2 separate regions of the Homo sapiens genome follow, and region 2 is linked to region 1. The links come from fine-mapping of genetic effects on gene expression. Tissue or cell type: fibroblasts. Region 1 holds a variant in brackets; the other region holds the start of a gene. All regions are shown on one strand. Distances are from middle to middle. Region 1 overlaps PLS3-AS1 (PLS3 antisense RNA 1). Region 2 holds the start of PLS3-AS1 (PLS3 antisense RNA 1).

Region 1 (16,255 bases):
CAAATAATATGTCGGTTTCATGAAGCAAGCCTCAGCTACCAGATGTTAAAATATTTCAACTCTACAGCAGCAGCTAGACAACATCCAAAAAAAATTTAAACTCAACATAAGGAAGAAATGAAATTCAATTGCTTCAACAATGAGCATAGTGTAATTGGATGAGGGCCGCCTGTTGGCATCAAAAGGTCCTGACAATTGCAGCGATCCATTTGTAAAGCCTTCTTTCTTTTCCTCAGGTTGTGGAAATAAAACAGTCCTCAAGAGTAAAGTGGAGAATTTCCAATTTTGTCCTTTAATAAATGAGTTGTTGGCATTGTATAGAATGAAAATAATGATACGTCTTTTTCCACCAAAGCATAATGACCCTTGTGGCCTTTCTCTCCACTCTGTACCCTGTACTTTAGATGGTAAGCAGCAATTTGAGTGGCAACATTGAAAAAGATGTTAACCCTCTGTTGCTCAGCAAGTACTAAGCAGATACAGAGCCTACATTGTGCTCACTGCGCCAGGACTAATAGCAAAGTGGTGTTCCTGAATTTTTCCCCTTCCTCCAAGCTCACTGAAACATAAAGTCTGGCATTAATAAATAAATACAACATTCTGATTGAGAAGGTAGTGCATCCACGGATAACTGGAAAACTTACAATCCTAGAACTTTGTCTTACATTGATGTTGACATCGTATAGGAACTTAGAATCTAATTTCTGTAAATAAATTTTGCAAAACGTTTACGAAAATCATGGAACAGTTAGGTTTCAAAAATTTTTTTTACAGTCAGGGAAGAAAGAGTTTCCCCCGCCCCCACCCCTGCACACAGCGGTGTAAAAATGCTTTGTTTTTTAAAGGACGTTAAATTATAAAACCCAGCTCTGAATTTTAAATGCCACAGACGTGAGGGTATAACACCTTATTAGGTTGCCAGATTTAGCAAATAAAATTACAGTATGCCCAGTTAAATCTGAATTTGAGATAAACAACAAATAATTTTTTTTAGTATAAGTATGCCTCATGCCATATCTAGCAACCTTAACCTTAGAAAACCATGCTTGATTATGTAATATTCCAGCTGACTGGTTAATTTTTAGGAGGCAGGTTTGCTTTTTATTCCCTGGGTTTTCATCTTTTCCCATTCCTGCATGTCTCCTCAGCATATGAGATTTTTTTGAATGAATGGAAAGATCTTCTGTGAAGAAGACCATTCAGTTCATAAATGAATTATTTTAAAGCCCTGAACCCCTCTGCAAAAAAAAAAAAAGTGAACAAAAAGCCCCTTTTTGGTCCTCTTTTTGTGCTGTTACAATTGCTCTTCACTTGTTGATCTGGGTTTAATCATTCAGATAAGTGCTTCAACTTTAAGTGCCTCAATTTTCTGCTGTTCTGAATATGAAGGCTCAGTATAAATGGGTGGGGGAGGGAGGGAGTCTATGGCACTGAGTCACATCAATTTGAAAAATAAGTATGTAGACCTCATGTGGACTTTTCCTGTAATTAAAGACTCTCACTTCCCAAAATATATAAATCAGATGCTTTACCTGTTCTGATCATTTCAATGAACATTCAATTCATGCGTCCATCAGAGGGTTCACAAATGCACGAAAAGTTCATAATTCAGGCTGGGCATCATGGCTCATGCCTGTAATCCCAGCACTTTGGGAGGCTGAGGTGGGAGGATCGCTTGAGACCAGGAATTCAAGACTGGCCTGGGCAACAGAGTGAGACCTCGTTTCAACAACAAAAAAAATACATCTTCTTCACACTTTTTTTTTCCAGACATGGTCTTGCTCTGTTGCCCAGGCTGGAGTGCAGTGGCATGATCATAGCTTACTGCAGCCTCAAATTCCTGGGCTCAAGTGATCCTCCCACCTCAGCCTCCAGCATAGCTGAGACTACAGACACATGCCACCACACCCAGGTATGCAACCAAAACTTGTAGGAAATATTACTGATTTTTAGTATTTGCTTTATTGTGTCATAAGAAAACCTTTTTACAAAACTTGAGACATCTTCCTATTAAGGTTATAATTCCATTATGGCAGACATATGTGATGTTGAAATCACTTTTAAAATCATTATATTTTAAAAATTATTGCTTTTGAAACATTTCTTGTACTTTCTTCAACTTTTTTATTAAAAATATGATTTTTACACCCTCTTCTTTTGAAGTCATTTGCAGAAGGACATGCAACAATAAGTGCCTGAACTGTCTCTAGAAATGCATAAGAACTCTATTTAGGCCGGGTGCGGTGGCTCACACCTATAATCCCAGGACTTTGTGAGGCTAAAGCAGGAGGATTGCTTGAGGCCAGGAGTTCAAGACAAGCCTAGGCAATATATTAAGACTTTGTTTCTACAAAAATGAAATAAAATAAAAGGCATGATGATGCACGCCTGTGGTGTCAGCTACTTGGGAGGCAAGGTGGGAGGCTAAGGTGGGAGGATCACTTGAGCCCAGCAGGTCAAGGTTGTGGTGAGCAGTGATTGCACCATTGCCCTTCACCTTGGGCAACAGAGGAAGACCCTGTCTCATAAAAAGAACTCTATTTAGGCTCTTTCATATATAACATCTGCCCTCTCAGGAATCTTTTTAATGGAAAAACATTGATGTCCTTCTGTTTATGATGATTATTTCATCTTTTGTTTAACCTTCAAAAACCTACAAAAGTTTTAAAAGATGTCATGTCTAGTATCTCAGGATACTAGAAATTGAAAGAAACTTTCTCAATTTGGCCAAAGTTGTCCATGAAATCTTTGTAGCCTATATCACATTAATGGTTTAAAAAAGTGAATGCTTTTCGATAGAAAAGAGGACATGAAATGTTACCAACTCATAGAAATGATAAATACTCAAGGTGATGGATACCTCACGTACCCTGACTTGATCATTACACATTTTATGCATGTAAGAAGCACTCACAATTTCCCCATAAATATGTCAAATATTATGTATCAATAAAGGGGAAAAAAGTGAAAGGGTTGCTCTTAAGATCAGGAACAAGATGAGGAGGTTTGCTCTCACCAATTCTATTCGACATCATACTAGAAGTTCTACTCAGTGTAATAAGGCAAGAAATAAAAGGCATCCAGACTGGAAGGAAAGCAGTTAAGGCTCTCCTTATTCACACATAACATGATCTTCTACAGAGAAGAATCTACAAAAAAATCTACCAGATATAATAAGTCTGTCGTCCAGTCTGGAGTGCAGTGGTGCTATCTTGGCTTACTGCAACCTCTGCCTCCTGGGTTCAAGCGACTCTCTTGTCTCAGCCTCCTGAGTAACTGGGACTACAGGCGTACCCCACCACACCCAGCTAATTTTTGTATTTTTAGTAGAGACGGAGTTTCACCATGTTGTCCAGGCTGGTCTTGAACTCCTGGCTTCAAGTGATCCACCCACCTCGGCCTCTGAAAGTGCTGGGATTCCAGGCATGAGCCACCACGCCCAGCCACTTCTGTTATCATTTTAAAAGCAAGAAAGTTCCATTAAACAGAAATCTTTATATACTTTTTTTTTTTCAGCCTTGCTGAGAATGAACTCCCGTATGGTTGGTATGCATGGAGATGTACTGCCTGATTAATTTATCTTATACTTTTGGGCGCAACCAATTAAAACTTGTGGCAGTCTCTTATTTTTTCTTTCTTTCTTTCTTTTTTTTTTTTTTTTTTTTTTTTGATAAAGACAGGGTGTTGCCATGTTGCCCAGGCTGAACTCGAACTCCTGGGCTCAAGTGATTCTCCTACATCAGCCTCCCAAAGTGCTGGGATTACAGGCATGAACCATCACGCCCGGCCTGAGTCAGTCTCTTGAAGTCAGAAGTACACTAGACCGTAAAACTGGAGACCTAGTTGTGCTCCAGCTGTGCCAACATTTAGTTTCACGATATGCAGCAAGCCACTTCACCTCTCTCGGCTTGAGTTTCCTCATTTAGTAAAGTAGGTGGTTAACAGAGGATCACTCCTGTTCCGCTTCTAAGACTTATTATTTAAGATATATAGAGAGTTTAACATCAATTTTATTATCACTTGAGACACCACTTCAGTGCTGCAACTTGAGCATTGAAGAGCAGAGCAAAACACTTCATAAATGCAGGTAAGAGTGGATATTTTGGTCTGACTCAGATAATTGCCTTAGTTATAAATTGGCATTGTAGATCTATCTACAATGTATGTTAATAATATCAAAAAATAATAAAATAAAATCCCCAGAATTTTCTGCTTTCCCAAATAAGCTCATTAAGTGTAAAGAAAGAACTAGTTTTTAAGATCTTCTGATTTAGACATTCAAAGTATTGAAAGGGTAGATTCCAGATTGATAACCATAAGGGTCTTTAAAGTGGCATTTTTAGGCAGGGCGTGGTGGCTCATGCCTGTAATCCCAGCATGTTGGGAGGCCAAGGCGGGTGGATCTCCTAAACTCGGGAGTTTGAGACCAGCCTGGGCAGCATGGAGAAACCTCGTTTCTGCCAAAAATACAAAAACAACAACAGCAACAACAAAAAAAAGCCAGGCATGGTTGCATGCCTGTGGTCCCAGCTACTCAAGAGGCTGAGGTGGAAGGATCGCTTGAGCTGGGGAGGCAGAGGTTACAGTGAGTTGAGATTGCACCACTGCACTCCAGCCTGGGTGACAGAGTGAGATTCCATCTCAATAAATAAATAAATAAAGTAGCATTTTAAAAAAGTATCTGCAGTTTTATTCTTATGCTAAACATCTAGGCCCTGTTTTGAAGGCACATACACCACACTTTTATACTCAATCAAGCAGATAGCCAAGTTGTCAGTGTGCATGTCTTACCAATAATGTTATATTGATTTCTCTGTAATTGTTTCTTTAGTGCATTGAGGTGTTATAGTATAAAATCATTAATCTTGAACTTTGAGTACCTTTATATTTTTTGAAAATAACAAAAAGTGATGTAGTATGCCCTGTTCCATATAGAATATGAACCTTAGAATAGATGCTGTGCTACACAGTTATCATTCCTTTTTCCCCATTCTCTCTATCAGTGTGATCTATTCACCTACTCATATCCAGAAATAAAATTTGTTTTGTTTTGTTTTGTTTTCTTTTCTTTTCTTTTTTCTGAGACAGAGTCTCCCTCTCTCACCCAGACTGGGGTGCAGTGGCATGATCTTGGCTCACTACAACCTCCACCTCCCGGGTTCAAGTGATTCTTGTACCTCAGCCTCCTGAGTAGCTGAGACCACAGGCACCCACCACCAAGCCTGGATAATTTTTGTATTTTCAGTAGAGATGGGGTTTTACCGTGTTGGCCAGGCTGGTCTTGAACTCCTGACCTCAGGTGATCCGCCTGCCTCAGCCTCCCAAAGTGCTGGGATTACAGATGTGAGCCACCATGCCCAGCCTAAAATTTGTTGATATTTAGTTTGTTACAGAAGAAGGAGGATTGAAATAAAAATAAAATATATTTATTATGTAATGACTGGTAACTGATTTTGTATTCATGTACAGATAGAATAACTCTACATTCTGAGAATTCAAAACCTTTTGGACAATTAAAATATTAAGAAACATGATCTATCTTGCTTCAATTGCTTGTTTTTAGCGAGTTTAAATATTTCACTAAACTTCATAGCTTTGAATGCATCAAGGTCTCTTCAGAGTTTTTCAGTGGGTAACAAACTTATGTGTGTGTGTGTGTGTGTGTGTGTGTGTGTGTGTGTGTGTGTTTCAAATTTGCCACTGCGGAAACTGTAAAAAAGAATATATATATATATATTCCCTGTTGCTCAAGCGATTGTCCCACCTCAGCCTCTTGAGTAGCTGGGACCACAGGCACGTGACCATGGCAGGCTATTTTTTTTTTTTTTGTATTTTTGGTAGAAATGGGACTTCTCCATGTTGCTCATTTTGTATTTTTGGTAGAAACGGGGTTTCTCCATGTTGCCCAGGTTGGTCTCAAACTCCTGAGCTTAGGAGATCCACCCGCCTTGTCCTCCCAACATGCTGGGATTACAGGCATGAGCCACCACGCCCTGCCTAAAAATGCCACTTTAAAGACCCTTATGGTTATCAATCTGGAATCTACCCTTTCAATACTTTGAATGTCTAAATCAGAAGATCTTAAAAACCAGTTCTTTACACTTAATGAATTTATTTGAGAAAGCAGAAAATTCTGGGGATTTTATTTTATTATTTTTTGATATTATTAACATACATAATGTTATACAAAGAATATACATATATTTTTTACAGTTTCTACAGTGGCAAATTTGAAGTATGGTAAATGTTGCTTCTGCATTCCAATTTGATAATGAGCCTTAACCTTGTCCATTTCATTCCATTAAAAGAGGAAAAAAAGTAGTTACTGGCAAAGCAAATGGCTCATAAAGTAATCTGAGTGATGGAAAAAGAACAGTTCTCAGCATGGAATGAAAATATCTTTCACCAAGGATGAAGTAGAATTATAGAAGTACTCCATCTGTAGCTACTTTTTACATTTAATAGTCTTAAATAAAATTCCCCTTGAGTATCTCTGACCATTGAGGTCTGAGAGCCTGAAACATGATGAAATTTACAATCTGGGCAGTCATAAAGAAAGTCCTACATTTTTTTCAGGCTTTGAGGGGAATGGGCATTCTATTATGCCTATTCCGTTGGTCACCTTGGGTCTTATAAATTTCTTTATAAATTTGCCATACAAACTTTTATTTATTTTTATTTTATTTAATTAAAATGTTTTTCTTTTTTCATAGTGATGGGGTTTCCACCGTGTTGCCTAGGCTGGTCTTGAACTCCTAGGCTCAATGAATCCTCCCATCTCAACGTCCCAAAGTGCTGGGATTATAGACGTGAGTCACTGTGTCTGGCTGCAAACTTTTGGATATTTTTCTTAAAATAAAAACTTTTCTAACATATACTTGTTTTGTGATGTCAAGATGGTCCAGGGGATCTTAACAAATAATAAAGAAGCCTTTCATGATACAAGGATCAAGACTTAGGTTCTAATATCAGTTTTATTGCACAATTATTGTGTAGTATTGGAAAAGTCCAGTCATCTTTCTAATAATTTATTATAAGGCTTAAGTGCAAATATGCTTAAAAGGTTCTTTTTAATCATAAAGCATTATGCAAATGTGACATATTTTCTCCAAACAGCCACCTAAATGAAAGTGGTGGGTTTTCAATTATCTGAGGCATAAACCATGAATCTATGTACTTTGACTACACATATGAGATGAAGATTAGCCTTGTGGTTGCTTATTAGATTGAAATGCTTTTGCATACATATTCATATAGAATACTTACAAATCAAATGTCAACTTTGTTATTTATATAGTGTTGACAATGATGATAATAGGTAACACTAATTAAGCACTCCGTATACATCATGCCTGGTGCTAAGCAGTTTCCATATGTTACCTAACTCAACAGTTGAAACGACCCTGTATTATAGAGAGGAAAGAGATAAAGCCAGGATTATAGATTGAAGCAATCCAACTCCTCTCTTAGCCATTATATTTTTATGCCTTCCAATACTCTTAAAAATCTGCTGTCTGTCAACTTTTTATTTCTGGCAGAGCATTCTTCAGAATAAATGCAAGACAAATCCTCCAGAGAGGCTTCTGGAAACTACAGACTCCAGATAGTCTCATGATACATTGAGTAATCTGGTTAAATGGAGAGTAAACATTAGGATTATGAAAACACAGAAGCACAGAACTTAATGGAGAGAACCTGCTTGATTTCCATAACAGAAAATCATGCTATACTAGAGTTTGGGATAAGTAGAAAGTAGATACAAAAGTGGGAGCCTCAGACAAAAGAACTTTAAATTTAAAAAAAAAAAACCACCTTTGAAAGTTTTTAAACCAAAAAGTTTTGATTACAGTCCACATAGCATTGCAGGACATGTAATGTAAGAGCTTAGAGATGAGTGGGAGGAGCTGATGGGGAATTTTGCAGGCAATATGACCACTCTGTAATTGTAATTGACAACTTGTCAATTACCCAAGGTCTTCCATACCCCTTGTGCCATCTGGTAATCACAGTATTCTGGTGAGGAAAATAGAACAGATTCTATTATGCCATTTTAGAGATATTTTAACTGTTAATGGCAGAATCTTCTTAAAATTAGCCTTGAGATTGGTCTAAATTATCATTTTCACAAATTATCTTTGAAGAGAAAGTACATGAGTACATTGGTCCCAACCCACATTTATAACCCCAGCATCCATCATGACTTTATTCACATTATATTCTAGCTAGACAGAATTACTCCCCAGGCAGTTATACATCTTTACCCATTGCTTTTTTTTTTTTTTTTTTTTGAGACAGGGTCTCTTTCTGTTGCCCAGGCTGGAGTGCAATGGCACAACCATAGCTCACCATAACATCAAATTTCTTTGTCTCAAGCGATCCTCCTGCCTCAGCCTACTAAATATGTCGGACTACAGGCAAGTGCCACCATGCCCAGCTAGTTTTAGAGGGGGTTTTATTATGTTGTCCAGGCTTGTCTTGAACTCCTGGGCTCAAGAAATCCCCCTGCATCAGACTCCCAAAGTGCTGGGATTACAGGTGTGAGCCATTGCGCCTGGCCTCTACTCTTTTTTTTTTCCTACCATACAAGCCCATCCCAACAACTTATCTCTATTCATATTGGCTTTTCAAATCACATCTATATTTCCACCCCTAAAATCTCCTTACTTCTTGATTTCTTCAAGCATATGTTAAAATGACAAGTTCTGAGTTGTCATCCCTGGAAAGGGTGCCAAGGGTCCTTTATAGACTCTCTCCTGAAGACAGCTGCCCAAGTATTGTTTCGGTCAAAATAATCAGGAAAATGTTGAACATCATTAAGAAAAATTGGAGGAAAAACCAGTAAGCAGTCATTCTATTTTTTTTTTTTTTTTTTGTAAATCCTTGAGGTGTCTGCATCCGGGCTCTTTTTTGTAGTTCTGGTCTATGTACAAGACAGGAATAATAGAGTTGGAGAAGACCCTGAGACGAGCAACTGAAACGGTGAAGGGGACGGAAAGCAAGGCGGGATATAAGCTATATATAAAATGATAACTCTTCATATTAAAAC[T/C]GGCTAAAGGTAAGCGTCATCAGAGAGCTGTGTGGCTGCCAGATTTTGTTACTGGTATCTTGCCAGAGCATATGTCCTAAACAGTTTTATCTCCAGTGGCCTCATCCTTGGGCTGTAGTTTGGCTATTCTATTTTCTCTAACTCAATTTCTTGAATTTCTGACAATTTCTTCAGTCCCACACATCCCCATTTACCAGGAGCTTCTCATTACAGAGTGGTGAATGTCAGGATGCCCTTACCTACAGGTAAGGGGCAGGTGAACAGTCTTATTTATGTTCATACGGGTTCTAGTTTGATTCTCCCCCCAGGCCAATTGTCATACTCTTTAGGCTACCTGGGCCTCAACTAAGTTGTGTACATCAGAATCACCTGGGGAACTATAGATCTATGAATCATTTATCACTTAATTTCTCTATTGTGGAAAATCAGGATGTCATGTATGTATTTCTTTAATACAGAACATAACTAAACAAACAACAAAAATGAATCATTAAATAGAAAACTGCTTTTGGTCTAATGTTTTATACACACACACACGCACACACACATATGTGTGTGTGTGTGCGTGTGTGTGTGTGTGTGTGTGTATATATATATATATATATATATTTGGAGATTAGGTCTCACTCTGTCGCCCAGGCTGCAGTGCAGTGGCACAATCATGACTCATTGCAGCTTCAACTTCCCGGGTTCAGGTGATTTTCCCACCACAGCCTCCGGGGTAGCTGGGATGACAGGCATGCACCACAATGACCGAGTAATTTTTTATATTCTTTTGTAGAGATGGGGTTTCGTCATGTTGCCCAGGCTGATGTAGAACTCCTGGCCTCAAGCAATCCACCTGCTTTGGCCTCCCAAAGTGCTGGGATTACAGACGTGAGCCACCATGCCCTGCTGGTTTAACGTTATATTGAAGTTTCTCCAACTGAAGGGCATGTACTGTTGAGCATGCTCAGAAGCCAAGGTTCAAGCCATTCTTCAACTATAGATGCTTCAACTCATCTCTCTTTCTTCGGAATATTCTCTCCCTTATCAATTTCACCAATTATACCAAGTAACCCCCTGCTTATTCCCCTAGAACAGACAGAGCTGATACTAGTCTGTGCCTTATGTGATTTAGAAAAAGACTCTTGGAATGCAGCCCCAGACCATGATGTACAGAGCATGAGTTGGGTATTGCCCCATTTTATTCTCTAATTCAGGTGCCCTTGTGCAGTGAATAACATGGCAGCTGTGAGACTAGTGATGCTAAACAGGTTTAATTTTTGGTGCAAATTCTAATGAATTAATAATAGCTGTTTTAAAAAAACACACAGTGCTAAGAAAGACTCTGAGGCTGTTTTCAGGCTCAGTAGATAAATTGTACTGTAAGCTGGGATGATTTGCCTTGGTTGGGAGAATGGCACCAGGTGTGACAAGAATTTGCTATCTAAGGACTAGAGGCATCTCACCCGTCCTGAAGAGGTAGGAAGCCTGGGGTAGGCAGATGTTGAGGTAGAATGTGGGCCCAGACAAGTTTTATAATTTATAGAACACAACTTTAAAATGCCCTTGTAATACAAGGCAACAATCCTACTTTTCCAGGTCTCTAACAAAAAGCATCTAGCTGAGCTAGAGTGTTTTCATGAGGCATCTGCTACACAAAACAATGTCTTGCTTAATAAATAACACCCGTTTCTACTTGGTGTCATTTTACTGTTTAATCAAAACTTATTTTCACCACTCTTAACCACAATCTAAAGAAGGATGCTTCAATCTCTTCCTGATTTAGCCTTAAACTTGGTCATGTGTACCATTCGACTAGGATTGCCAGAGTCAGCCACCCTCCCAACAAAGGATGCTCAGTTAAATATTGCACAGAACACACTTATACTAAAAATTGTTTGTTGTTTATCTGAAATTCAAATTTAATGGGGCATAATGTATTTTACTTGGCAATCCTACCTGTGATGGACATATATATTTCCCCCCAGCTTTATTAAGGTATAATTGACAAATAAAAGTGTAAATATTTATGATATAAATGGAAATATAAACAGATGCTCCTCGACTTTTGATGGGGTTACATCCTGATAAACCTGTCATAAGTTAAAAATATTGTGAGTTGAAAATTCATGTAATACACCTAACTTACTGAATATCCTAGCTTGGCCTAGCCAACCTTAAATGTGCCCAGAACACTTACATCAGCATATTTGGGCTGATGTAACACAAACCCTATTTTATCATAAACTGTTTAATATCTCATGTAATTTATTGAATACTGTATTGAAAATGAAAGATAAAATGGTTGTATGGGTACTCAAAGTACAGTTTCTATTGTCTGTGTATCTCTTTTGCACCATCGTACAGTTGAAAAATCCTGTGTCAAACAATCATAAGTCAGGGACCATCTGTATTGTTGAAATAGCATTTCAAGCTGGATTCCTTTTTAGAAAAAAAATGATCTAAAAGGGATATGCCATAAAAATCTACAAATGAAGTGTAAGAGGTGATGTACACATGAGCAATTTCACTATATTCAAGAATACTAAAAATTGGTTGTGATTCCCTTGACGTTTAAGGAAGTGGTTTTGAATTTTAAAATAGCAATGCTTTATGCAGTAATAAATATATACAATTTATTACCACTGGGAAGAGATCCAGCCAGAAAAATTTTGAAAGACACATTTAGAAAGTTTTAGATATATTCATGTACAATCATGCAAATCAAATAAAAATGATATAGCACCTACTGTATTTTAGGCACTCATGATCCAGAGATGAAGACATGGTCCCGCTGCTCAGGGAGTCTACTAGCAACACACATATAATTCAAAATAACAATATAGTCTTGGGAGAAAAATAGAAGTAAATAATAAAGTACAGTCATAGTAGGAAAAAATGCATGGTTGATTATCTCTACTGGGGGAAAACGGGAGCAAGGGAAAACTCTAATAGATCACTCTTGAACTAGAATTTTGTTGTTTCTTTTAATTCGTATGTATGTATGTATGTATGTATGTATGTACAGGGTCTCACTCTGTTGCCTAGGCTGGAGTTCAGTGACACAATCATGGCTCACTGCAGACTCAAACTCCTGGGCTTAAGTGATCCTCCTGCCTCAGCCCCCTAAGTAACTGGGATGACAGGCACCACTATGCCCAGCTAATTTTTTTTATTTTTTTAGTAGATATGGGGGTCTCACTTTGTTGCTCATTCTTGTCAACTCCTGGCTTTAAGTAATCCTCCAACAGGCCAGGCATGGTGGCTCACACCTGTAATCCCAGCACTTTGGGAAGCCTTGGCGGTTGAGTCACCTGAGGTCAGGAGTTCGAGACTAGCCTGGCCACCATGGTGAAATCCGTCTCTACCAAAAATACAAAAATTAGCCGGTGTGGTGGTGCACGCCTGTAATCCCAGCTACTCGGGAGGCTGAGGCTCAAGAATTGCTTGAACCCAGGAGGCAGAGGTTGCAGTGAGCCAAGATTCCATCACTGGACTCCAGCCTGGGTGATAGAGTGAGACTCAGTCTCAAAAAAAAAAAAAAAGTTATTCTCCCACCTAGGCCTCCCAAATTGCTGAGGTTACAAGCATGAGCCACTGTACTGGCCTGTTGTTTCTTTTTAAATCCATTTTATTTGTAGTATAGTTTACAAACAATAAGATTTACCCATTTACCCATTTAAAGTGCAATTTGATGAGTTTTACCTTTTTTAGGGTTATTGAGGTATGATTTGCATAAAGTAAACTTTAGTCTTTTAAAATGTATGGGTCAAAGAATTTTAACGAACTTATTCAGTTGTATAACCATCATCATAATAAAGATACAGAGTATTTCTACTATCAAAAAAATTCCTTCATGCCCTTTTGTGTTAGTTTTCTGTTACTGGAATAATAAGTTACCACAAACTTAGTGGTTGAAAGCAGCACCCATTTTACTGTAGCACACTCCCGTATGTCAGAAGTTAGGACAGTATGGTGGGGCTCTCTGCTAAGGATCTCGCAAAACTGAAATCAAAGTGTTGCATAGGCTGAGTTCCTTTCTGGAGGCTCTGAGTAAAATCTGCTTAGAAGCTCGTTCAGGCTGTTGGCCAGATTCTGTTCCCTGCAGCTCTAGGACTGAGGTCCCCATTTTCTGGACACTTGGCCTTCTCCACCTTCAAGTCAGCAGTGAGTTGAATCCTTCTTGTACTTCAGACCTCTCTGACTTCTGCTTTTAAAAGGTCATGTGATTCCACTGGGCCCACCTGGATAATCCAGGATGATATTGCTATTTTAAGGTCAACTGATTAGTAACTTTAATTACATGTCCAAAGTCTATTTTGCCATGTAACATAATGTATTCATGGGCATAACAACAGTAGTAAAGGTCATAGGGTCAAAAATTCTGCATTTCACACACTTTGTATCAATGCCTCTATTCCAGCCTTTGGTAACATCCGATCTGATTTCTGTCCCTGTAGTTTCGTTTTTTCCGGAATGTCATATAAATAGAATCATATAGTCTTTAGCTTTTTTTTTTTTTTTTTTTTTTTTTGAGATAAGGTCTCACTCTGTCACCCAGGCTGGAGTACAGTGCATGATCATAGCTTGGCTCACCAGTCTCGACCTCCTGGGCTTCGGTGATCCTCCCACCTCTGCCTCCTGAGTAGCTGGAACTATAGGCATGCACCACCACACCCAGCTAATTTTTATATTTTTTGTAGAAACGGGGTTTTGTTATGCTGTCCAGGCTGGCCTTGAGCTCCTGGGCTCAAGCGATGGGCCTACCTCTGCCTCCCAAAGTGCTGGGATTACAGGCGTGAGGCACTGTGCCTGGCCATTATGTAGCTTTTTGAGTGACTTTTTTTTTTTTTTTCACTCAGCCTAAGGCTCTTGAGATCTATGTACAAAGTCACATGGATAAATAGTTCCTTTTTGTCACTAGGTAGTATTTCCTTGTATGAATGTACCACAGTTTCTTCAACCATCCACCTGCTGGTGAGAAGGTCCAGGCACAAATGCAGTCTGAGAATATAAGCAGTAGTCACAAATGCCTGATAAACTGATTTAAGGGGCTAGAGAGAGAACAGAAGCTAGGAAAAACCTCTGAGAGATCTAAAATAACAAGTAGGTTCACACAATTAGGGAATGACATTCTAGGAGATGGTCTCATGTACACCATTTTACTAATGAGAAAAATGAGGTTCCAAGAGCTTAACTAACTGGCCAAAATCACACAGGTGATCAATGTCTGAGGTGGAATGTAAATCTAAGTCCATCTGACAGTAAATATATCAGTGATTCCTATTTTTTTTTTTTTTTTGAGACGGAGTCTTGTTCTGTTGCCCAGGCTGGAGTGCAGGGGCGCCATCTCGGCTCACTGCAAACTCCACCTCCCAGGTTCAAGCGATTCTCCTGCCTCAGCCTCCCAAATAGCTGGGATTACAGGCGCCCACCACCATGCCAGGCTAGTTTTTGTATTTTTTTTTTTTTTTTTTAGTAGAGATGGGGTTTCGCCATTTTGGCCAGGTTGGTCTCAAACTCCTGACCTCAGGTCATCCGCTCGCCTTGGCCTCCCAAAGTGCTGGGATTACAAGTGTGAGCCATCGCGCCCGGCCCTAATTATATTTGATATGATAAAAGCTATGGGTCTTCTCCCCAGAAAAATAAACATGCAAATGCATACCAATCCTAGCTGAAGAATCATTTACATTTACATTTAACCCTAATCATTTACCTTTAACCCTAATCCCCTAGCGCCAAATATAACTATTCCTTGTGATAAAAGCACAGAATATTACCCCAGGTAGAGACAATTGAAGTGGGAAAACCTGGTTTCAAATTTTAACTGTGTCATTTACTGTCTGTATGATGTTGATCTCATTACTTTAACCAATTGAGCACCAGTTTCTTTACCAGCAAAACAAGTATAATAATGGCAGCTTTGCAAGATTGTTGTGAAGCACACAGTGGGTGCTCAGCAAATGCCTGACAAACTGAACTGTCCAGTGAACTTCAATTTCTTGTCCCTTTTCCTGTCTTCTGACCATCCTAGCAAAACAGAGAACCCCATCATGAAATTAAGTCATTTTTACTCTAAAAATCATTCACAACTGTCTGGGCCAATCAGGATGTTTGATAAGGCATAAACACCAAGAAGCCTCCTGGGAAATAAATTGTTTAAACTTAAGAGTGTCGTATAACTTGACTCAAAGGCAGTTGAGCCTGTGTAAGGAGCTTGGCTACATTATTAACCCACCAGAGTGCATGCCACAGGTATCATCTGGCCCAGCCCCCCTTGAATCCAAGCCTGAATCTTACAGCAAAGAATCACTAATAAAACAAGTGAAGATGAAAAGAACTTCATTCTAGCTGGGCGCGATGGCTCACGCCTGTAATCCCAGCACTTTGGGGGGCTGAGGTGAGCTGATCACGAGGTCAGGAGTTGGAGACCAGCCTGGCCAACATGGTGAAACCCCCGTCTCTACTAAAAATACAAAAATTAGCCGGGAGTGGTGGCACGCACCCGTAATCCCAGCTACTTAGGAGGCTGAGGCAGGAGAATGGCTTGAACCTGGGAGGCGGAGGTTGCCGTGAGCGAAGATCACCCCACTGCACTCCAGCCTGGGCAACAGAGCGAGGCTCCGTCTTAAAAAAAAAAAAAAAAAAAAAAAAAAAGAACTTCATTCTAACATTTCAGCAACGTCAGTGCCAACACCTTTGGCAGCACCTTAGGAGATTGATTGTACCACTGCTATTGTCACTGGTGGAGGGTGTCCAGGTTCTTGGGCTCTTGAACAAAGAATTGGACAAAACGCACAAAGCAAGGAAGGAAGGAATCATGGGATTTATTGAAAATGAAAGTACACTCCACAGTGTGGGAGTGGACCCCAGCATAGGGGCTCAAGGGCACTGTTACAGAGTTTTTTTGAGTTTAAATACCCTCTACTTGTTGTACACCCTATGTAAATGAAGAGGATGAAGTAAAGTTATCATTTACTATGGAGAGGACATTTTCTGTCATAGCTGAAGTGTGAATCAACCTTATGTTCCCTGCCTCCAGACCCTGCTTTCCTGCCTCACTATCTCCAGTATTGAAAGATAACACCAACAGAAAACCAAATACCACATGTTCTCACTTATAAGTGGGAGCTAAATGATGAGAACACATGAACACACAGAGGGGAACAACACACGCTGCAGACTTTTGAAGGTTAGAGGGTGAGAGGAGGGAGAGGATCAGGA
Region 2 (16,255 bases), 40 kb before region 1:
ACTGTGCAACATAGCATGTAAATGATGCCCCTGAAAAGAAAAGAAAGGTAGTGAGAATGTGTTGTTGGGTGAAAGGAACCTTCCAAGTCACTTCTGGGTCATAATAGAATTCCCAGACCAATAAAGTCTTTGGTGAGTGAGGCTAGTGAACTGGAGGAAAGAGAAAAACACCATGGAAGGGTCTGTGAAATGGCATGGGTTAAGTTTCAGGAGGGATATGTAATGTACAATGAGCCATTTAAATACACAAAATATTTGTAAATTCAAGTGCTTGTAATTTAAGCAATCGCCATATACTGAAACCAGGCACAAATTAAGTGACAGCATCAGAATTTTTACTATTATTGGACCTATGTTTAGTTATATTATTTAAGCAACCTGAATGAAATGTAAAACTCTGAGTTTAACTGTAGTTTATTGAGTGATATCAAAGTACTTTAAGAAACTAATAGCCTTGAGATAAAAGGGCATATCAGCAAATAGTCATTTAGCCAACACCAGGATTAAATGTTTCTTTAGGATACTGAATGTTCATAGGCACAAATAAGCTTTGTATACTTGAACTGAGTTTTATAATAATATTAAACATAAAGGCTTCTTAAAAACAAACGTGTCTCCCTTCCCCCATTAACAGTTCCGTTTCAAAAAACAGAACTTCCTATGATTGTACACAGCACAGAATCCTACCTCATCCTGCTCTGCACCTGCTAACTAGATCAGAGAAAACCAAAATACTTCCAAGACATATACTTTACCTAAACAAGTTCCAGTTTAGAGTCACATATGATACAATACACTATATAAAGAATGGCCTTTTCTTTTTTCTTCTTCTTTTTTTTTTTTTTTTTTTGAAACGGAGTCGTGCTCTGTTGCCCGGGCTGGAGTGCAGTGGTGCAATCTTGGCTCACTGCAACCTTCACCTCCTGGGTTCAAGCGATTCTCCTGCCTTAGCCTCCCAAGTAGCTGGGATTACAGGCGTGCGCCACCATGCTCAGCTAGTTTTTTTGTATTTTTAGTAGAGACGGAGTTTTGCCATGTTGGCCAGGCTGGTCTTGAACTCCTGACCTCAAGTGATCTGCCTGCCTTGGCCTTCCAAAGTATTGGGATTACAGGCCTGAGCCACCATGCCCAGCCTTCTTTTTTTAAATGCCACTGAAATCAAGGCTATCTTTTTGTTTAAGCCAATGTTTAAATTTCAGGGACTATCAAAGGAATTCATCTTTAAAACATTCTTGGTGACTTCTAAAAAATGATAGAGTGCAAAATGATGTTCGATCAAGAATGCTTACTGAAGCATTATCTGTAAGATATGGAAACAAATGTTCAACAACTTGGAATTAGTGAAATAAATTATGAAACAGCCATTATATAAAATATACTGCAGTGATTTTAAACATTTTTAAAAATATTTGATCACTTGGAAACATGTTTATAATGTAATAAATGAAAAGAATGGGATATAGTGTTATTCCAATTTTTAAAAATTTCTCTTCCTACATATAAAATAAACATAAAAATATGAGCATTTAAAATTATAGTTACCTTGAATTTTTCTAATCCAAAGCAAAGTGATTGAAAACATCTTTAAAGTACACACTACACAAGACACTTTCCCAGTAGATTAATTCATACATGTTGAATAGTATAGCAATAGGATGTGCTCTAGGGACAATTTCGTATCATTTTCACCTCTGAGCAAACTCTTTGCACCCTATAATGGTGATTCTTCCTGATCTGAAACACAAGCCCCAAAATGTTAAAATGAACAACAAGAAATGGCAAAAATGGGAACATTCAAGCAAGTTAAGAAATATAGAAAAAAAGCTTGAAAATTACATTCATCTATGAATGAAAGCGTTATTTTCAGTGTCAACAGCAGAATGTCAATCTGAGTGCAACACGATGTAATTAGAGCTTATAATGTGGAACACAATAATATGAATATTCAAAACTATTATACGGCCCTAACAAATTTTATTTTACAGAAAGTAAAAACTTATATTATATATCACGTAAAACTTTATATAATATACATATGCACACATAAGTGTATATATACTCGTGTGTGTATGAATATCACAACTCAAGGGAATCAGACTTGTATTTTCAATGAACTGGACAGAGTATGAATGGGCGACAGAGTGAGAACCTGACTCAAAAAAAAAAAAAAAAAAAAGAAGAAGAAAAGAAAAGAAAATCCAAGTTAATAGCTTTGAAGGTGTTTATTTTTCAACTTAACTTCCCACATTTTCTGTTTTTTTTTGTTTGTTTGTTTGTTTTTCTGTTTTTCTTTTGAGATGGGGTCTCACTCGGTAGCCCAGGCTTGGAGTGCAATGGCGCAATCTCGGCTCACTGTAACCTCCGCCTCCCAGGCTCAAGCAATCCTCCCACCTCAGCCTCTTGGGTAGCTGGGACTACAAGCCCGTGCCACCGTGCTTGGCTAAGTTTTTGTATTTTAGTAGAGACGGGGTTTCACCATGTTGGCTAGGCTGGTCTCCTGGCCTGAAGTGATCCACCCACCTCGGCCTCCCAAAGTGTTGGGATGACAGATGTGAGCCACCGTGCCAGGCCATTTTTTGTGTTATTCATGGCATGCTACTTAAATGTATAGATTATCTCTTCCACTATGCAGTTTCCCAGACCTGCGTGTTGTCCTCCTTTAGACTGCAATTATGAGGAGGAAAAACTTGATTTTTTATGAGGTTTTTTACACGAAACCTCCCATTATGGGCAATCACAAAACTAAAAATGAGGTATGGTAAGCCAATGGACTCTGTAACAATTACCACTGAAGACCAAAATTCTACTCAGTAGTTAGTTAAAAAGGGGAAAAACACCACCCAATTAATGGCTTTAACGGGCTACCTTGCACAATATTTGAGGTAAGAAATAGAAGAAAGTATCACATGGGCTGGGCGCGGTGGCTCATGCCTGTAATCCCAGCACTCTGGGAGGCCAAGGCGGGCGGATCACAAGGTCAGGAATTCTAGACCAGCCTGACCAACATGGTGAAACCCCATTTCTACTAAAAATACAAAAATTAGCCAGGCGTGGTGGTACGCGCCTGTAATCCCAGCTACTCAGGAGGCTGAGGCACGAGAATCACTTGAACCCGGAGGCAGAGGTTGCAGTGGGCTGAGATCACGCCATTGCATTCCAGCCTGGGCGACAGAGCGAGACTCCATCTCAAAACAAAACAAAACAAAACGGGCCGGGCGCGGTGGCTCACGCCTGTAATCCCAGCACTTTGGGAGGCCGAGGCGGGCGGATCACGAGGTCAGGAGATCGAGACCACGGTGAAACCCCGTCTCTACTAAAAATACAAAAAAACTAGCTGGGCACAGTGGCGGGCGCCTGTAGTCCCAGCTACTCGGGAGGCTGAGGCAGGAGAATGGCCTGAACCCGGGAGGAGGAGCTTGCAGTGAGCCGAGATCACGGCCGCTGCACCACTCCAGCCTGGGCGACAAAGCAAGACTCCGTCTTTAAAACAAAACAAAACAGAACAAAACAAAAGAAGAAGAAGAAAGTATCACATGTAGGTTTTTATTCTATTGTTATCAACCTAGTCTCTTATTTTTCATTATAATATGTCTGGCTTTATTTTTCCTTTGCTTGTAAAAATTGGATGGGTGCAGAACTTTTACAGACAAAGAAAAATGTGGCAAGACTTACGTGATGAGAACCCTGCCATTTCTGTAAACTCTTGTTAAAGCTTTAGTGTTTCTATGATACACTGCTGCAGTACTTTGAATTTATATAGCACCTGTCTGCTTAAAAGCCAAGGCTTCACGTTTCTCACTTATCCTTTTACCATGCCTGTGAAATATGTAGATTGGAATCACATGGCTTAAAAATAAAGTGAAACCCAGATATGACCACAGAAAATTTCAATGAGTTACTTAAGATCATCTATCTGTCCAGACTGCAAAGGACTAAAAGACCCTAAATTCTATGCTCAATGCTTTTCCAATAAACAACACTACCTCCTTATTATCAAATACGTTTCTAAACTTTTAAGAAAATGTAAGGTTTCTCATATTATAAAATCAGTAGGCTTAATGCACCAAAAATCCCTGTCAAGGAATTAAATAAATGGCACCTCTTTATTTTAAAGAACTAACATTAGTCATGGAATAACCCACTGGTGATCACTTTCCTGAATAGTCATCAATTTGCCAACAAAGTATTTAGCTTGGATCAATGCAATTGCATCAAAGTTTGAAAAGTCAACTGATAAGTGAAATAAGCCAGATTATGAATATTTGAAAAAATAAAACCCAGCAAACCAAAAAGCTTGAGCAATCCTCTCTTTTTATAAACAAAAGCATGAATGGTGTCTGGCACATGTATGTACTCAATTAGTTATTAATATAATAATTTTAAATGACTTTCCGAAGGTCAAATTATGAGTCAATGGCAGAGCACTATCTAGAATCTAATTCCTCTGAGGGCAAGTTCAATGATTTACTTAAGATAATCTATCTGTCCAGACTGCAAAGGACTAAAAGACCCATGCTAAAATAATTAGTATTTTCATTTTTGTATACTAACAATACTTCTTCATCCCTAAAACAGTTTATACTCACTAATATTTATCTTCCAAGTGTCAAGACTAAGGCAAAATTTGGTATTATTAAATTTATCGTGAATCTTCTGAAATTGTCTCACCTCCGTAACTAAAATAAATTGGCCCAAGTATGATCAGATCTTCTAAGACTGACATTTCACGATTAGACTGTTTCCATAACTTTAACCAAAGCGCTCTCATAACTAAAATCAGCTAGTCATGACCACTGGTATATAAAAATCTTCCAACATTGTAATGTATCCAAAAAGCTTTGAAACCTCCAACACACTGAATATACATTATATGGTATATCACTGTCTAAAATAATACAGACTCAAAACATGACCCAGCTGACTTCTTCTAAATGAGTTGTATTATTTTCACAGATCAAAAATTTTGCCTTCTGGATCACTCTTCACCAAAAGAAAAATTGCCATATGACCAAAGACAACATGATTCTAAAAACAGATACCCCATTGTTGTCATGTATTGAGAGATATTCATTTTCAAATTTTATTTTATACCAGCTACTTTCATAATCTGTACCAAACATCAAAAAAGAAACAGTTCAGCTTATACATTCCACATAGATTATGCTAGATCAAACACAACAGCAAACTCATGAATTTATCATATGTGCTAAGAACACTGTCAGTACATTTCATGAAAATCCAAGTAGAAATAATGCCTAAAACAGAATATGGGATAATGGCAAATGGACTTTCTTCTTGTACCCTCTCAGTGTCACCAAAAAGAACCACTTTGGTGCTCAAGCACCATGGCCAAGCTGCCCTTTTATTTTCAGTAACAGAATTCTGTTCTCCTGGGAGAAAAATCTCATTGGGTTTCTGATAGTGCCCTAGATACTGACATTCTGCCAGTATAAACAGTCACAGTCAAAGTCTAATGTGCGTGTAACCACTTGTGGAAGAGGCTTAATCTCACCCAAATTATTACTCACTAGTTATAATTAATCCTTCTACCCAAAATGCCATAAGCCTAGTCATTTTTATCAATTGAATCTAAATGGTTACATCAGACTAGAGACTTTGGACTTCAATGTTGATCGTCTGTATTAAGTCAAGGCAAAGTGTTATTTATTTATTAATAGCTCCCCACCTCAGGTAAAGGGGTTGCTATCTGCTAGATCTAACAGTAAAAATCAAGAATTTGACTCCCAGCCCCCTAATTTCAATAAAAATTTGGGCTCATTAGATCATACCACCAAAAAAAGTCAGCAATATTGGGGGTGGTGTTCAATGAGTAGGCATCCCAAGACAATGAAAAGCTGTGGACTAGAGCCTAGCGATGATTCTGTTTAGACATGATTTCACAATACTTAAAAAAGAACTTATCCCCCTACCACTGTAACCTAGTTGAGTGGTAATAACTTCCTTTTTTTGAGGTTAAACATTTATTATTTCGATCTAAAATTATATTATCACCTCACTTCCACTAGAGGGGTCTATCTACCAGTGTAGTTAACTCTAGTAACTCAGGTGCACCTTAAATCCATTTCCAGCTCATCTGTGCCACAAGGCTAGCCTTGGGGTCAGAACAATGTGCTTTAAGGTTGTTCTAGTTTTCAGGCTCAGAAACGGATGAACAGCAAGAAACTGGAGTGCTCCGGTCATTCAGAGGCTGCTGCAGGAGACAAAGGGTTTTTGGCAAAAGAATACAAAGTCAGAATCTCTTAAATATCTTCTGCCCTAGTTGTTTTCAAGACTGAATATGCATCAACCAGGTCCGTTTTTTCTTTTTTTTTCAGATAAGCAAAGCTTTTAAACTCCTGACCTCAGAGGCTCCTCTGCCTCTCTTCTATACTCTGTAATATATAATCTGAATAGCCAAATTGCCACGTTTTCCCAGAAGCAACCTTAACTTGGGCCACTTGGGCGGGTATAGGTCAATATGGGAAAGTTGTTTCAGTGTCCTCTCATTATTCTACCAAACCACTGACAGGCAAAAACCCAACCAACTCGATGTATCAAATTTACTATCCACTGTTTTTGTGCATGATTTCTAATCCAGTTAATTGAAAACCACAAATAACTGGTGGTTAATTTTAGTCAAGAGGTTATTTACTACCTTTAAGTAGTTGCCTAAAATAGGGAACAGTTCAATTAGAATATAGGCCAGACCAAGGAAGATGAACAGAGCCTTACTTTTTAACACTATCTTGTGGGATTTAGCTTCAAATCTAGTATTCAGGGACAAAATGAGGCATGAGTAATAGGATGACTTCCCTAGAAAATAATTAGTAAGATGTTTTTTAAATTTAGAAAAACCATGAGATTGAAGAAGAGAGGAGATACATGTCCCAGCTCACATATATTTCAATCCCTTATTTTAAAAACAGCTCCTGTTTTTGTTTTGGATAAAAGCTGAGCACCAAATTCCCTTTCTGGTCCCCTCATCCAAAATCCTAGTAGACTTCCTTGATTAGAAGCTAGTTCACACTCCTCCCCACCTTTTTTTTTTTCAAACGTAGAGGTGGTTTTTGGAATATGGGCCTCAACCATTACATTCCAGCTTTAAAGTAAAAAGACGTCATGTGACCATCAGAGACTTGGGGCACGTGATTCCAACTGGTATGTGTGGGGCTCCAGCCACTTAGTTGGAATTCACCATGAACTGCATCTCGAGGATCAAGTTTAGGCTCCCCAGTCCATTGTGACATCCAGCAAAGTGGAGTAAGTGCTTGCCCCTCAATGGTTTTTACTTTTCCCTACATTTTCTACCTACTGTTAGCCAGGCTCCCTTCCCTCCTCCCAATCCCTCTTAACAGGCCGGGCGCCCCCAGCATCCCGTCTGTCTGACGCTAAATGGCGAGGCTCTCCAACCCACTTAGCTCCAAGCTCAACCTTCTGCAAAAGTTCAACCTTCTGCACCACTGGGGATATCGTGCAGCTCAGGTGAGAGGCAAGGAGCATCGCATAAGGCTAGAGTCAGATGCCATTAACCCCCACTCCACCTCCCGGGCTGGGATCATCTTACGTCCCGGAGCCCGGCGGTCGGAACCGCCAGCACACTGGAGCAGCGACGGCGGCAGCAACTTTGGGACTGGCGAGAAGCCAGGGCGGGGGTGGTCGGCGTCCCCGGGCCTCTCATTACAGCGCTTAAGTACTGCGGGTGGAGAAAAGTAAACACAGGCAAGTGCAGCTGTGCGGGGAAAGGGCGGGGGGGTAGACTATTACCTCCCTCCCGTCGCCCCTTTGCCTCTCCCTCTCCAAGAGTCGGGAGAGGTCCGGGACTGCCGCCGCCCCGACCGCGCGCCCGGGGCCGCAAAGTCAAAGGAGCTGAAAAAAGGACAGGGGGTGTGGGGCCAGGGGAGAACGGAAAGGTACTGTCCTACTAGCCCAGAGATGTTCTCCTACTGAAAGGAAAAAAAGTGCTTACTCATAGGGAGACTAGGTGCGTTCGCGACGCCCTCGCTAAGGACAAGGGAGGGAAGCAGGCAGAAGGCAGGCAACCCAAACCTCGTGCCTTCCCTCGGCCACGGCCCCCCCTCTCCAGAGCCCCAGGGTCGGCTTAAGCCAGCCAGGTCACCCGAGGCGGGCGTGTGGGGGCTGGAGGAGTAGCAGGCTGCTGGCTCCGGGATTTCCTGAGTCCGGGCGGGAGGGAAGAGGGGATGGCAGTAGCTGGAGAAGGACGACAGAGGGAAGTTGTGCGCTCCCTTTCCACTTCGGGGCCGCAGCCGCGGAGGGGAATCAGGGCAAGGGCTGGCGTCTAGGACTCCAGCCCAAGACTGGCAACAAGTTAAGAGCAACTAGTAAGAAAACACCACTTAATACAGTGAAGTGCAGAAAACGTGTCTGCGGCGGATGCTAGTAGGGAAACTCCCCGTCACTCACACCCATTTCGGTTGCGACCGATCGCCCGGGCGCCCGAGGGCTCCAACTGAAATTTCTCCGACCTCCCTCTCCCCCAACCCCCGCCCCACGGTGCGCCGCACGTTCCTGCTGAGCTTAACCGAGATGCTCTCCCCGGGACCCACTCCTGCCCACGCCCAGGAAACCCGCTCCCCTAGTGCCCGCCGGCGCCTACAAAGCACTTACGTAAAGTCGCAGAGTCCTGGGTCTGGCCCGACTGCCGCCGACCAACCCACTCAGACAACTTCTGCACCTCGGAATCTTTGCAGCTGTGGCTCTAAAGCCAGCGCTCCCTCCCCTCCTGCCAGCCCCCTCCGCCCCTCGGCCGCCGCCATTGGCTCGGGTGGTGCTAGCAGTCGGCCTGGGAACCAGGAAGGGGATTGGGCCACGAGCCTGTCACATCAACTGGGTGGGGATCCAGGAAAATAGGCACGGGGATGGGCACCCAGGAGGGATAGGGACTGCAACTCTGCTGCAGGGAGAGGAGAATGGTCCCCAGCGCCTGAGTCTCCCCTTCCTACTTGGGCTAAGAGGAAGTTAGAAGTCCAACGTGCCTGGCTCGGAGTACACATTCACACAATCTTGTGGGATTAATAAAAAGATGAAAAAGTTGGGAACAAGAATTTGAATGCCACCTATATAAGTCTATGGGGGAGGGGTACAGTTTCTCCCAGAATCGTGAGAAGAATAACGGCATGTTGGGGAACATTCCTAATTACATCTGCAACAATCAGTCCAGGTGCCAAAGGGTGCAGAGGGAAACATCAGCAATCATTCCTTTCCTTAAGAAGTCAAGGGAGAAGAATATGGGCAGGGCAGGGCCCTCAAGCCTTTGGCCTCATGCCAAGTAAATTGTTAGCCCACATCACCTGTCTGGTATGTTTGTCCATGCGGAGAGGGGTTGAGAGGAGGTGGTTGGAAGTACATTGGTTCCACTCTTTTGACCGGAAATGGGTATCAATTCTCATCAGTCTCCTTTCACCAGAGAAAATTTGGAGACATGTTACTACTCCCCAGACTGCCATTTCTTCTCCTTCTCTGCCCAGGAGATGGCTTCCACGTCATAGCTGACCTCTTTCATTAATACACGTGGAGGTTATCTGCATTCCAAACCTATGGTTCATCGTATATCCAAAATCAACTCAGAGAGCCAGAGTTTGAGGGATTTTGCAGGGTCAGGTCAAGAGACTGACTTGTGGGATAGCTGTAGAAGAAAAAGTCTAAGCCCTTTCCTGTTCCAGTCGTAACCATTTTGTTGAGGAAATGTGTGCTTGGAAAGTTCTGTCAACATTTAAAATTAGTTCAATTAAGTCGCATTTTACATGTACCAGGAAAAAATGCTGAGAGGCTTTAAAATGGAATGTTCTTGAAAAGGAACCCCTATTTCATCTGCCATTATGAATTTCCTTAGAGAAATTAATCCGTAGTGAGTGCCAAGGCTTCTTAAAAGGGAAGAACTTGGGGAGTTCATATATTGCCTAAAGGCTAGACTAGCAGAGGACTTGGCACGAGGAAAAAGCCTTGTTAAATATTAATTAATGATTAACCAACTGGAAGAACTTATGAAAGGCACAGGAAGGTGAAAAAGAAATGGGAGGGCAATCATGCTTTCACAAACATTGAATTTCTGTTATGGGAGATTTTCTACTGGTTCAGGTTTGGGCCAGCACAAAAATACTGATTTCAACATGTTGGCGTTGGATTGAACATGGAGCCAGTGCATTGCCACACACATTTACAGTAAGCTCCCAAATGAGATTTCTAGCATTCAGTAATTGGCCAAAGGTTTGGTGTGACTTCTGGAATTCTTTACAAAAAATTTTTAGATACAGGAAATAGGCTTTTTCAGTTTTCTACCTTTTATGGTGTCTGTCGGTCACCGCTGAAGAGCTTCCACCTGCTCTTAAACTTAAAATTACAGACTGAGCAATAGCATGAAGGGACTCTGTAAGCTAAATTTTCCAGTGCAGATATATTTGTCTCAATTACGTTGTATTCAATTTTAGTTTATTTTTCAAATTCTAGAATTTAAAGTAAAAATATTAAGAATCCTACGTATATGCTATTTACAGTTCCTGTTTTTAATTCAAAAAAGCTTACATTGGTCCGAGTAGGGTAGCTCACGCCTGTAATCCAGCACTTTGGGAGGCTGTGCAGTGGGAGGATTGCATGAGGCCAGGAGTTCAAGACCAGCCTGGACAACATAGCAAGACCTCATCTCTACAAAAAAAATTAATAAAATTTTTTAAAAGCTTAATAGAATCTATACTTTGATAAAAGTCTTCATTCACCACTATCACTGAGGATGTCAGAATTCAGTCAAGAAATGTCATTTTAATTGAAATGCAATAGTCCATAGTTTCAAAGCTGCAGTGTACCTAGCTGATGGCATTAGTTCTCATTGCCTCAGTAACTTTCCAACAGATAAAACACACCCTAAACACAGAAGCACCTATTTGGATGCTAGCTGAGATTCCTGTTTAACAAGCTCCACTATATAATCCAGGTAGAACTCCATTTTAATGAATACTATTAAGATACCCAGCCAGTTTGATGTAACTAAGCTACCTTTGTGTTGCCCAGAATCTAAAGGATCTTTTCAAATTTAGCATTTTGCTGGAAGAAAGGATCCTCAGGCTCAAAGCTCTTAAACAGCATTTCTTTATAATTTTTCATGCCATCAATTTACCTCATAGAGGATCATTCACGAAGTAACCCAAAGTTGATTGTTTTCTTATCTGTATCAAAAAGCCTGCACAGATGTTTGTCAGGGTTCCCTCCACCTGCTTATAGGCTTTAATTTATTTTGACAGTGACTTGCATAGTGCCTGACACATAGGAGTTCAGTAAATGTTTGCTGAACCAATGGTTATTTTATGTCTATTCTTGTTAAACAACAGCAACAAAAAGCTATTAATATATATAGGATTCTCACAGACCTTGTGAATCAGTAACCTAAGAGTTTTTACCTTTCCTTCCATTTCCAATTTTCGATCCTAATGCCTTTGTAATAAATCACTTAAAGTCAATATCACAAAATTTTGAAAACCATTTATTCTTCCTGTCCTCCGCTGATATCATAAGAAGGCGCCAATATCTCTCTTAGGTTTTTTGTCTGTCCAAACTACTTTTCTTTCCTCCTTTTGATACGCACATCCCCCTTTTTCTTGCTCTTTTTCCTATTGTTCTGCCCAACACTCTCCCCAGTCTAGCTCACAATGTATTATGTGTACATAGTCTAAAATTTTCCCTGAAATTTTCCTAGAGTAAGTTGTCAGTTTCCTCTTCTATCCATTTTTAATTCTTTATTCTTAACATGTCATTGCTGGTTTGAACTTTTTTTTTTTTCCTTGAGACAGAGTTTCACTGTTGTCACCTCAGCTGTAGTGCAACGGCACAGTCTCAGCTCATTGCAACCTCTGCCTCCCGGGTTCAAGCGATTCTCCTGCCTCAGCCTCCCAAGTAGCTGGTATTATAGGCACCTGCCACCACACCCGGCCGATTTTTGTTTTTTCAGTAGAGATGGGGTTTCACCATGTTGGCCAGGCTCCTCTCGAACTCCTGACCTCAGGTGATCCACCTGCCTTGGCCTCCCAAAGTGCTGGGATTACAGAGGTGAGCCACCGTGCCTGACCACTGGCTTGAACTTTTTATCCATTTTTTATTTTATTTTATTTTATTTTATTTTATTTTTTCTTCTTTTTCCTCACCCCGTCTGAGATAATTTTTATCATTTTTTTTAAAACCTCCTTTCTGTAGTCTATTAAAAAATGATTTTGCTGCATAAACTTTATATAAGCCAGGAATAACTTAAAGAATCTTGATCAGTTCAATACTAAATCATTTTTCTAACACACCTAATTGTTTTCTCAGTCTCTAAATGTAAAATTGTGTACTAATCTGTTTTAATTAATTGTATTTTATTTTATCAGATTATTTTCAAGGAATTATCCTTTTTTAAATCATCTTTTTAATTCATGGATAATTCTATTCCATGTTGTGATATTTTAGGTTCTTGGATTGATCCTAATCCCTCTTTTTATTCAGTGTGCTGTGAGATGACATTTTTATTAAAATTAAGTATGATTTTAAAGGTTTCTCTCATACTTAAAATATTTGGCATAGAGGAAATCTTGGAAGACCTGGACAATTATTAATTTTTTTTTGATCCATAGGATACAGATTTGAACAGTTATTACCACTGTTTATTAGTGGAGTGTTTTTATGTTTCCAACTCAAAATGTACACATGTATAGGACATGAATATTAATAGTGAATAGGCAATTGTCAAATATTTTTCAAACCTAAAGATTATTATGAATGTGAATGCCTGCTAATGCAGGCCAACTATCTTACACGCACATTCACATAAAGAAATTACTCTGACATGTCCAAGCTTATTTCAGATTTTCACTTGTTAAAAAAAAAATTATCAGTATCTGAGAATAAGAAAATTAAAAAATAAAAAACAAAAAATTAATTGAAGTCTCTTTAATAGGATTAGGACATATTTAATCAGTATGGACTTTATAATATGTAGATTTAACAAAGATCACTATCATCACTGGAAATGCTCAAAATTAAAGTGTCACCCTCCCCTCTCCCGACTTTCTGGGTGTTAAATATCTAATTAATCAATCAGATAACTATTATAAGCAACATAGAAAAAGTATGGTCTCAAAACACAACGAATTAATAGTCTAATATTAATTCAAGATCAAAGTCCACATAACTGTAATAATGAGAAAACAATTCAAGATAGAATATATAAGAAGCACCGTAGGTAGGCTGAAAAGAATGAGAATAATAGGGCTAAAGCAGTTGTAGAAGGCATCCTTTGTGCAATGGAACTTGAGCTAGGCTTGACAAAGATGGGTAAGACTTGATATAGGCAAGTAGAAATGAAAACCATTTTCATTCCTAGGAAGTGATAAAAGAAAAACTTCAGACAAATTAAATTTAACATAGTTTAATTGAGCAATGAACGATGGGGCAGCCACCCCAAACCAGACTAGGTGCAGAGAGACTCTGGTGCTGCCACATGTTCATAGAGAATTTATGGACAGAAAAAGAAAAGTGACATACAGAAAATGGAAGTGGGGTACAGCAATAGCTGGATTGGTTACACCTTGGCATTTGCTTTATTTGAACTCAATTTGAACAATTGGCTGCTTTTATTGGCCAAAACTCAGTAATTTTTACAAGTGAGGGTTACAGTGTGTTTACACATCTGTTTAGGTTACAGTTCACTATGTATGGAAATACTGTTTTTTTTTTTTGGCAGGGTCTCGCTCTGTCACCCAGGTTGGAGTGCAGTGGCACGATCATGGCTCACTGAAGCCTCAATTTCCCAGGCTCAGGTGATTCTCACACCGCAAGTCTCCCAAGCAGCTGGGACTACAGGCTCGTGCCACCACACCCAACTAATTTTTTTTTGTGGTAGAGACGCGGTTTTGCCATGTTGTCCAGGCTGGACTTGAACGCCTGGGCTCAAGTGATCCACCTGCCTGGGCCTCCCAAACTACTGGGATTAGAGGCCTGAGCCACCACACCCAACCAGGCTAAACTTAATTTAACATAAGAAAGCAAAATGGGAGCGCTTTAGGTAAGTTTCTGAGTTTGGGCTTTCTTTCCAGGCTTCTACTTCCTTATCTGCAAAAGAAAAACTGAGGATTTGCCTACCACAAAGGTGCAGTGATAACATCAATGGGAAGGAAGATTGCTTGGGATCTCACTAACGTAATCTTTTTAAAAGAGAAAATATATTTTTTTAACACTTACTTTAGTGATTAAAAAGACTTGTGGGCTGGGCTCATGCCTGTAATCCCAGCACTTTCGGAAGCCGAGGTGGGTAGATCACTTGAGCCCAGGAATTTGAGACCAGCCTGGGCAACATCGCAAAACCCAGTCTCTACAAAAAATACAAAAATTAGCTGGACATGGTCGTGGTACATGCCTGTAGTTCCAGCTACTTGGGAGGCTGAAGTTGGAGGATCACTTGAGGCTGGGAGGTTGAGGCTGCAGTGAGCTATGATATCACCACTGAACTCCAGCCCGGAAAGCAGAGTAAGACCCTGTTGAAAGAAGGAAAGAAAAGAAGGAAGGAAGGAAAGGAGGAAGGAAGGAAGAAAGAAAGGGAGGGAGGGAGGGAGGGAGGGAGGGAGGGAAAGAGGGAAGCAAAAGGAAGAAAGGAAAGAAAGAAAAGAAAAGAGAGAGGGGAACATCACACACCGGGGCCTGTCCTGGGGTTGGGGGAGGAGGGAGGGATAGCATTAGGAGATATACCTAACGTAAATGTAGAGTTAATGGGAGCAGCACACCAACATGGCACATGTATAGATATGTAACAAACCTGCACGTTGTGTGCATGTACACTAGAACTTAAAGCATAATAATAAAAAAAAAAGAGAGAGAAAGAGAGAGAGAGAAAGAGAAGGAGAGAGGGAGGGAGAGAGGGAAGGAGGGAAGGAAAATAAAAGAAAAGACTTGTGAATCTTTCTTGTCTTACATTAATTAAACTGCCAAGTTACAGAAGGTCTTGCTTTTAGTTACAGTAATTTTGTTTGTCTGGTTTTTTTTTTTAATTTTTTAATTTAATTTTTTTTAAGACGGAGTCTCGCTCTGTTACCCAGACTGGAGTGCAATGATGCAGTCTTGGCTCACTGCAACCTTCCGACTCCTGGGTGCAAGCGACTCTCGGGCCTCCTGAGTAGATGGGATTACAGGTGCGCCACCACACCCGGCTAATTTTTGTATTTTAGTAGAGACTGGGTTTCACCATGTTGGCCAGGCTGGTCTCAAACTCCTGATATCAAGTGATCCACCCATCTCCCAAAGTGCTGGGATTACAGGCATGAGCCACCGTGCCTGGCCAGGTTACAGTAATTTTGACAGTTGCTTTAGTTAGAGCCATAATAATCCTTCCCTCAATGAGATTTACATAATTAATTGGCACATATCACATTTTGCTTTTAAGGAAGTATTATTAATAACATGCCTGTAACTTACACAGAATTTAAGGTAGGTGAGTGCACTAGCACGTACAACTTGATGTTATCATTTTGTGTGTCTGGGCTATAAAGCATTCTTTTTGGTGAAATATTCAACCTCAACCTTTATTAGAATGTAATTTGAAATATTGGAGGCTTCCTATGAAAAAAGTCTTTTAAACATATACAAACAACCCTGCAGAATAAATTGTAGCGCACATTTTAAAATTTATAAGGGTTATCCATAATTCTCCACAGCACTAGCCAGACTTCTAAAGAAACAGTCATGTCCAGTCTATTGCGTTTAACTGATTTCTGAATATGTGAGGCCAAATTTTGGTAAATTTATGAGTGTCTACCTGCATTATGTGTGTGTGTGTGTGTGTGTGAGAGAGAGAGACAGAGAGAAAGAGAGAGAATATGATCAGATATTTAAATGCTATAACTGATTATTCTACCAAGAATGCTTATAGTTAAATATTTGGGTCTGTGTTTACTAAGTATGCAAAATAATGACTTTAAAAAGAGATTGACAGTGTGACACCGTGGATGAACCTTGAAAACATTATGCTAAGTGAAAAGAGGCCAGTAACAAAAGACCACATATTGTATGATTCCATTTATATAAAATGTACAAAAAGGGAAAAATCCATAGAGACAGAAAGTAGATTAGTGGTTGCCTAGGACTGGGGGTATGGGCAATTGGGGGGAAATGAGGAGTGACTGCTAGTAGGGTTCCTTTTTGGGGTAACGAAAATATTCTAAAATAGATTGTAGTGGCGGTTGCGTAACTATATGAATAAATTTAAAACTATCGAATTGTACAA

What was found.
Region 2: it holds the start of PLS3-AS1, and the variant in region 1 is fine-mapped to the expression of PLS3-AS1 in fibroblasts (GTEx, PIP above 0.99).

Annotation. Positions count from the first base shown.
Region 1 is chrX:115,513,284-115,529,538 of GRCh38, reverse strand. It overlaps PLS3-AS1 (PLS3 antisense RNA 1), which reads left to right. Exons shown (of 3, transcript NR_110384.1): 3 at 9,828-11,350. Among named protein-coding and RNA genes, the nearest start is that of PLS3, 40 kb to the left of the region's middle. The variant T/C (reference allele first, on the strand shown) is at 9,047.
Region 2 is chrX:115,553,631-115,569,885 of GRCh38, reverse strand. It overlaps PLS3-AS1 (PLS3 antisense RNA 1), which reads left to right and starts at 7,155. Exons shown (of 3, transcript NR_110384.1): 1 at 7,155-7,260; 2 at 7,356-7,482. PLS3 (plastin 3) reads right to left here and starts at 8,712. Exons shown (of 16, transcript NM_005032.7): 1 at 8,626-8,712. RefSeq lists enhancers at 3,228-3,792, 7,163-7,938.